Linked DNA regions of Homo sapiens. The protein of the gene in region 1 purifies or fractionates together with the protein of each later gene. This does not show direct contact. Each region holds a gene or a part of one and is shown on either strand. Other genes may lie near its edges. The genes, in order: PMP2 and AKR1B1.

Region 1 (3,920 bases):
ATACATGCCCAGGACTCAAACATTTTAGGTTTTGTTGTTGCAAAAGTAAAGTCTGCAGATTTTCTTTTTTTTTTTTCTTTTTCTTTTCTTTTTGAGACGGAGTCTCGCTCTGTCGTCCTGGTTGGAGTGCAATGGAGCAATCTCGGCTCACTGCAAGCTCCGCCTCCCAGGTTCACTCCATTCTCCTGCCTCAGCCTCCCGAGTAGCTGGGACTACAGGGGCCGCCACCACGCCTGGCTAATTTTTTGTATTTTTAGTAGAGACGGGGTTTCACCGTGTTAGCCAGGATGGTCTCGATCTCCTGACCTCGTGATCTGCCCTCCTCGGCCTTCCAAAGTGCTGGGATTACAGGCGTGAGCCACCGCGCCCGGCCAATGTCTGCAGATTTTCAAGAGTAAAAGTTTCCAGCTGAAATAGCTACTGCAAGTCATCCATTTTTATCACATCCAATCCTATTCCCCATTGAAAATTACTAATTATAGATTTGCATAAATCATTCTAGAGATTTTAGTTTGTATGTACAAATACTATAGATATATTTTAAAGATGAGACTATAGCATATACGTATTGTTCTATGATATTTTCCCTCAATACCATATTATGGATATAGAGAAGTATTCCCCTCATATTTTTGATAGAATTTCACTTCTGAAATTTTGTGGCTTCTATATCTAGCTGGTAGGAAAAAAACTATCCATCTAACTTTGAGATCTATACTATTATAAATGATCATAGAGAAATAAAATATTTTTTAAAAAACTCTTCTACATTTCAAAAATGAAACAAAATTAGACTCTTAAGTTTATTACCATTATTACCAAGACTATAAAATATATGGAAAAGGGAAAATGTAAAATAAAAAATATATGAAAGAAAAACTAATTTTCCAGGAAGTCTCAATGGTTGAATAACTTTTTCCAGTTAAAAAGATCTCAAACTTTTACATACTGAATAAGAAGTTAAGAGTTACAGCCAATAAACTATAAACTATATTCTTTCTTCAAATTCTGATTAATCTTTTGTTATTTTATACAGTTTAGGACAATGTTTCTCAAGTTAAATCATAATCTCTGGGTCAGAGCCTGAGAATTTATATTTACCAAATCCCAAGGTGTTATTTTGCATGCTAAACTGGAAAACAGTGGAATTAGAAAATCCTTCACTGAGACTTTCTTTTATTTGGCTTCTTCCTCAGCTGTAAAGTGAAGTCTTTAAATCTAACCGATCTCACAGTATGAATTGATCCCCATAAGTTCTCTTACTGTTCCAGGCAACAATGACATGACTTTGCTCATTTTATCTAAAATAGAACATTTTATACAGGCTTTCTGAACAGTTAAGTAAAGCTGTAGGCACTTTGACAAGCACAGCAAACTCGGGTCACTGGCATCACTCTTTATTGTATTTATATAGTTCTGAAAATTCCCAAAGACTCTTCATATCTATTGTGTTTATATCGATGGGACATACTCTAGAAATAGTATAAAATAAAGTTGTTGTAACTAATGACTCGGTTTTCCATCTTCACTCACTGCTCCAACTCCAGAAACGTCTGATGTTAGCGAAATTGAGTTTGAATTCACTGCCATAACTCCAGTTCTTTTTCTCTCAGTAACTTCCCTAGACTATGAACACAGTATTTTAGGAAGTATTTTTGTTTTTCAAACTCTCTGTATCTACATGATTGTGTAATAAAGGACAACCTAGAGGTAGAGAGAAAAAACTGTTAGTTTAGCTAAAACTTAAATTTTTAAATTGAGATTTTCTAGGATTTGCAATATATTCAATTCCTTATTTTATGAACACTTCAGTTGCTATGAACGTAGCTCTCAGAAAAGCCAGAAAATGGGTTGACCATGCTTTTAAGCTTTCTCTCCTCTGGACCTGCAACCAAAATTCTCTTGGTATGAAATTGCCCTTGAAATCAGTGGGCATTCCATGCATTTAAGCAGCTCTCTCATTTAAGTTAATTCTATTAAAAATTACCACAAATAAAATTCAAATAAATTATCTGAATGACACAACAAAAGATTAATCCTAAAAGAGGATTGTACTGCAGCCTTGCAAAACTCCCCAGTATCCTGTTAAAAGTAGTAGATGAAAATGTCATGTAGCTTTCTTAAAAAGGAGCTTTTCAGCAGAACAACAAAAAGCATTTCTTACCCAGAGCTTTCATGTAATCGTCAAAGTTCTCACTAGAGACAAGTTTCCAGGTGCCCAGGAATTTGTTGCTCATCGTGATGGGTGAGAGCTCAACACAGTTCTAAGTGGGATTCAGAAGACTCAGATAAAATGCTGAGGCCTCAGAAGATTCTTTTCAAGGATGCCCAAAGCGTGTGACTCTTACAGAGACCCAATGGGGAAAGGCAGTGTCGGGACTAAGCAATGAATGGCTCTTCAATGGCCAGCTGCCCGCCCAATAGGATAAAAGAAAACCCCACATAATACTTCCCTTTGTCTCCAAAAAAATTTATAAAATGAATGAGATTACTATTTGAATCTTCAAAAATTTTTTGATCAATCTTACATTTATAAGAAGGCTTAGGCCCTTCATGCTTTGGAAAAGACTGCATGAATTCTGTGATCATGAATGAATGTGTGTGTGTTTAGGCATGTCGGTCACTCTCAATCCTGAGTCTGCACAATTAAGAATTCTTATTGAAAGGGAAGAAAAAGAGGAAAATGTCTGTAAGTATTATGATAACAGTCTCAAATATGTTGTGGGAGAGAAACGTAGGGGAGCAGTGTGAGGAAGTATTCATAGGTAAGAAGGCTTGGCATAGTTCACATATCCCAGGCAGGCAGAGTAGGCAGACAAAGAAGTCAGTCTATTGCAGCAGAGCACAGAAATTGTATTCATGTGATGAAACAAGAAGTAGCACTATAACATGTTCTTTGAGCACAACAAAGATTTTCAGCTAGAAATACTTAAAGTCTGAACTAAGCAGGTTCCTGGATACTATAACTATTTGTGTTTAAGTCATTTAAAATGAATCTACAATTTTATAAAGAGGATTTTCTATAGAAAGAGTACTAATTTATATTGACAACTCACTATGGGCCAGACACTGTGCTAAGTGCTTAATACGGGTGATCTCATTTAATTATATCACTAATTCCAAGAGTTAGGAACTATTATTATATCCATTTTACCAATGATAAAAATGAGCTTGGGGACATTAGGTAAATTGCTCCCAAAAGTTGAATAAGGAGAGGACAGGTTTGAACCCAGCATTGCTGCCAGTGCCCGGGTTCTGAACCATGATCTTACCCTGCTTCTATTATACTATACCATACATGCTACGTGCACGGAGGCCCTGGCCAGAGATCACCTGATGCTGATAGCACCACGATTAGCTAGAAACACTCTCTCTCTTCTCAAAAATCAAGAGAGGTAAAAAATCAAAAGATCCAGCCTACTATATTACATCAAAGCCCCAGTCTTTGGCCAAGGGGAACAAACGTAAATCCACTTAGAACATAAGTGTTGCTCTTGAGAATCTCTGATTACTGCTATATCTTTCCTAGCAGGTTTTTTGTTTGTTTGTTTTTGTTGTTGTTTGTTTGTTGTTTGTTTTTACCTTAGCATTAATTCTGGCTGGAGACAACTGATATTACCAAGTTTTATACATTTAGTAAACAGGTTGGCACTGTTTACAACAACAAAAATATGATGAATTTGCTCATAACAGGTAGAATTACTAGCAAGAAGGGCTCAAGAAACCCAGTCGCATAGCTGTGACATAACTATTGCAGTTACATAGTTAGAGTTCAAGCTGAGTAAAACACGTGAAATCATATACAGTGGGCTGAAGTTTCATTTACAATCCCAGTGCCTGAATAGCTCAAGGTGGGAAAGAAATGGTGAATAGGAAAATTCCTCAGCTAACCAACTAACCCAATCCTAAACCCAAGAGAA
Region 2 (3,820 bases), on another chromosome or scaffold:
ACCGTGTTAGCCAGGATGGTCTTGATCTCCTGACCTCGTGATCCGCCCGCCTCAGCCTCCCAAAGTGCTGGGATTACAGGCGTGAGCCACCGCGCCCGGCCTGTTTGCTCTTCTTATCTCATTAAAGCCAGCCTGGCTTTCGTCTCACTGTCTCTTAGCTTCTGAAAGGTCTAATTCACTGGCACTGAAGAGTGAGGGCAGGACCCGTTAAACTGGTGCAAACGACACTTCTGATCCTGTCCTTTCTGGGTTCGTTTCTGCACCACACAGACACTTTTCTCTGTAGGCCATGGAAGAGCTGGTGGATGAAGGGCTGGTGAAAGCTATTGGCATCTCCAACTTCAACCATCTCCAGGTGGAGATGATCTTAAACAAACCTGGCTTGAAGTATAAGCCTGCAGTTAACCAGGTAAACATCCCCCAACGACACTGGCATTGCAACGTTGCTGTTTTACTGTCTGATGCTGGTAGGGATTTCTCGTCCACCTCACCCAGCAAGTGGCCAGGAGGCAGCTCCTGGGTGTTGGCAGAGTCCTGAGTTATGATTCAGCATGACACAGCACATCTGGGAGAGGAAACTTACAGGAAAGAAAGAGTTTGAGCCTGGCTTGTGACGATTTGGGGTCTGACAAAGAGGCAGCCATGAGATCCTCAGAACTGTGATAGTTGATAAGTGGCTAAAGCCAAGAAAAGCCTCTAGGGCCCATGAGAACATCTATAATAAGATAATAATAACACCAAGGATACTACCTGGGAACTGTAGGAAGTTACAGCTTATCTGGGAAATAGGGTGTTTGTTATACATAGTTTTCTGTATGGGGTAGGGAGGGACTTTAGCATAGGAAGCTTCATCTGTGTCCCATCAGCGTGTAGCCACAGTGCTCCCATCAGCTCTTGTTTTTGCATTTGCAGATTGAGTGCCACCCATATCTCACTCAGGAGAAGTTAATCCAGTACTGCCAGTCCAAAGGCATCGTGGTGACCGCCTACAGCCCCCTCGGCTCTCCTGACAGGCCCTGGTGAGCTTCCCACAGGCTCATGCTCCTGTGTCACTTGGTGAAGATTAGAAAAGACTAAAAAGAACAATTCAGCCTCAAGGAAGATGTTTCTGGGGGTGATCTGCAAAACTTCCCCTGAGCCTCTTGCTGGTTTTCCTGGAAGGGTTGGAGTTTCTAGTAGCAAGACACCTACTCTTTTTCCAAAGGGTTGGGGGTTCTTAACCCAGCTCTGAGGAGGAGACTGGTGGCTGCCCTCTGAGGTCGATGGGAGGATTAGGGTTGGGGTTTCTGGCTGCTGTGAGTGGTGGCCATGATGGTGTGACCTGGACTGTCTTTCTATCCTCAGGGCCAAGCCCGAGGACCCTTCTCTCCTGGAGGATCCCAGGATCAAGGCGATCGCAGCCAAGCACAATAAAACTACAGCCCAGGTACAGCCACTTCAGGTGTTGCTGACCGTCCACAACTGCCTGCATTCCTGACAGTCCTGTTAGCCAAGAGGAGGAAGTGACTGAGCCTGTTACACCCTCACAGGAAGTATGGTTAGGGGTCCTCAAGTACAGAGTGGAAAGGGCACAGATCGGGGTTTTAGAAGACTCTGGCATGGGCTCTTAGATTAATAGTGCCTGCCCCCACTACTGCAAGGGTGACTGCCACGAGGGCCAGCGCTTGTTCATTCATGTGGAACCTCATCTGTACAAATGTAAGAGCTCTTAGCCGTGCAGGGAATGTTCTTTCTCCTGAGTGGTAGTGTGCATTTCTAGCCAGTGGAGGGCCTCATGTGGTCTCATGATATGCCTGAGACACTGAAGCGTGTGGCACAGTGGCTAGCGCAGGACTCTGGAGTCAGATCTGGACCTGAATGCGTCGCCTACCTGTTGCTAGCTGTGACCTGACATCTTGGAGCCCCTCTCTGATCACCTGTGGAGTTCTAGCACGTCCTTCTGCAGGTTGTGTGTGTGAGAGACTGAGATGATGGGTGCGAGTGCCTGGCATGTATACACACTCACTGTCTCCTTGGGCTCACAGGTCCTGATCCGGTTCCCCATGCAGAGGAACTTGGTGGTGATCCCCAAGTCTGTGACACCAGAACGCATTGCTGAGAACTTTAAGGTAAGATCTTGGCTGGTCAGGCCTGGCCCTCCTCCATGGAGTGGGGGATGGGGGAGGCCTCTCATCCTGTCTCTGGAGTGTCATCTGTGGGATCACCACCATCCTCTCTTCTGAGGCCAGGGAGCTGTGGCGAGCAAGCCAAGACTGAGACTGACACCTCACCAGTGGAGCCGTGTGCAGGGGCAGGCCTTGGGCCTCCAGGGCCCCGTGCTGTGCACGCATACACCTACACCTTTGCTCAGGCCCTTCAGCCACACCGAGAGGTTACCCGGGGAGAATCTCGCTCTTGAGCTTCACTGCCTGGACCTGCCCTGCACTGGAGCTCTGTCAGCTACCAGCTGCATAACCCTGGGCAAGTCGCTTAACTGCTCGATGCCTCAGCTTCCCTATCTATAAAATAATATCCATTTTGAGGGTTGTTACGAAGATTAAGTGATGCATCAGAGCACTTCACATGGTGCTTAATACCTTAGTAAGTGATCGAGAAATGTTGCTGTGCTGATAAGTCCAGGGACTGCAAAGGACCCTCTGGGCCATTTAGTCCATTCACCAGCTCTGCAAGGAGTTCGTGTGATGATGGGCAGAGCCTAGACCTGTGTCAGGACTCTGGCGAAGCGCTCAGTGTGGCAGCTGGAGCAGCTCAGGCTACTTGGCGCCACCTCCCTCCCTGCCTGCCCTTGCAGCATTGGTGGCGGGGGTGTGGGGGAGGGGGGGGGCACGCCCAAAGGAGAGCAGCTCAGGGGAGTCCTGATGGCCCAAGAGCCTCTGTTCTCACTGAGCAAAGTGGCTCTGCCAGGGATGCTCTGTCTTTATCCAAGATCTGTGCCGAGCGCAGCACAGCCATGGGCCTGGGGCTCTTGGGCAGGCCCCAGCTTAGGTGAGCAGCTGATTTTGCCCAATTCCACTGCCCAAAGACTGTGGCCATAGTGCCTGCCACCTGTCACATATGAGACAGGGATGAGAGTGATCCCTGAAGAGGGAAGTGGAGCTCATTGTTTAGGAGAGGAGACGTTTTTCTTCTTACGTGCAGGTAGATGTTCTAAGTACACAAGATAAAATGGCAAAACAGTGGCCACTGAGGGAAAGGCATATCCCACCAGAGATGCATCGTTTGTTTCGTATTTCATTTTTTAAGGAATTAGGAAAGAAAAAATAAATGACTAATCTCAAAATGCTAACCTAATTATTTTATTTTTGCATCTTACTGTATAGCTTTTGCACATTTTTCTGTGATCATAACCACAGAGCCTGTAGCAGACTCTCTTTCTGCACATTCTGTGATCATCTGAAGCTAAGAGCCCTTCGGCTCTGGGAGTGTGTGTCAGCCTCTTGTGGGTCTCACCCAGTGGTGCCTGCCTGCCTCCCTCCCTCCCAGCCTCCATGCCAGCTGAGTTCTGTACCGTCTGCTGCCTTCATGCAGGTGGTTCTCTTCTCCCAGTATACCTTTCTTGCCCTCTCTGTCAAAATCTTATACTTCTTAGGCCATGTCAAATACCATCTCCTCTTCGGCTGTGGTTGTTCAGTTTCCCGGCTGGAATCCCTTTGGAATACCTCTGCCCTTCCTGTGCTGTTGAGTGTCTTATACAGTGTGTGATTAGTTATTTGTATTACAGTTGTAGAAATACCTCTGCCCTTTGTTTGCTTCATAAAATAGAGGCAAAGACACATCTTACCCATAATTATATTCCTCACTGCAACTTATCACAATAGAA

The links.
Region 2: the proteins of PMP2 (region 1) and AKR1B1 fractionate together in Homo sapiens (co-fractionation; one large-scale study listed by BioGRID). This does not show direct contact.

What each region holds. Positions count from the first base shown.
Region 1 is NC_000008.11:81,445,150-81,449,069, forward strand, and holds the start of PMP2 (myelin P2 protein), read right to left. Parts: upstream 2,291-3,920; 5' UTR 2,238-2,290; coding exon 2,165-2,237; intron 1-2,164.
Region 2 is NC_000007.14:134,445,586-134,449,405, reverse strand, and holds part of AKR1B1 (aldo-keto reductase family 1 member B1), read left to right. Parts: intron 1-286; coding exon 287-409; intron 410-912; coding exon 913-1,019; intron 1,020-1,344; coding exon 1,345-1,426; exon of another isoform or gene 1,427-2,024; coding exon 2,025-2,108; intron 2,109-3,820. UniProt on the Homo sapiens protein: Catalyzes the NADPH-dependent reduction of a wide variety of carbonyl-containing compounds to their corresponding alcohols.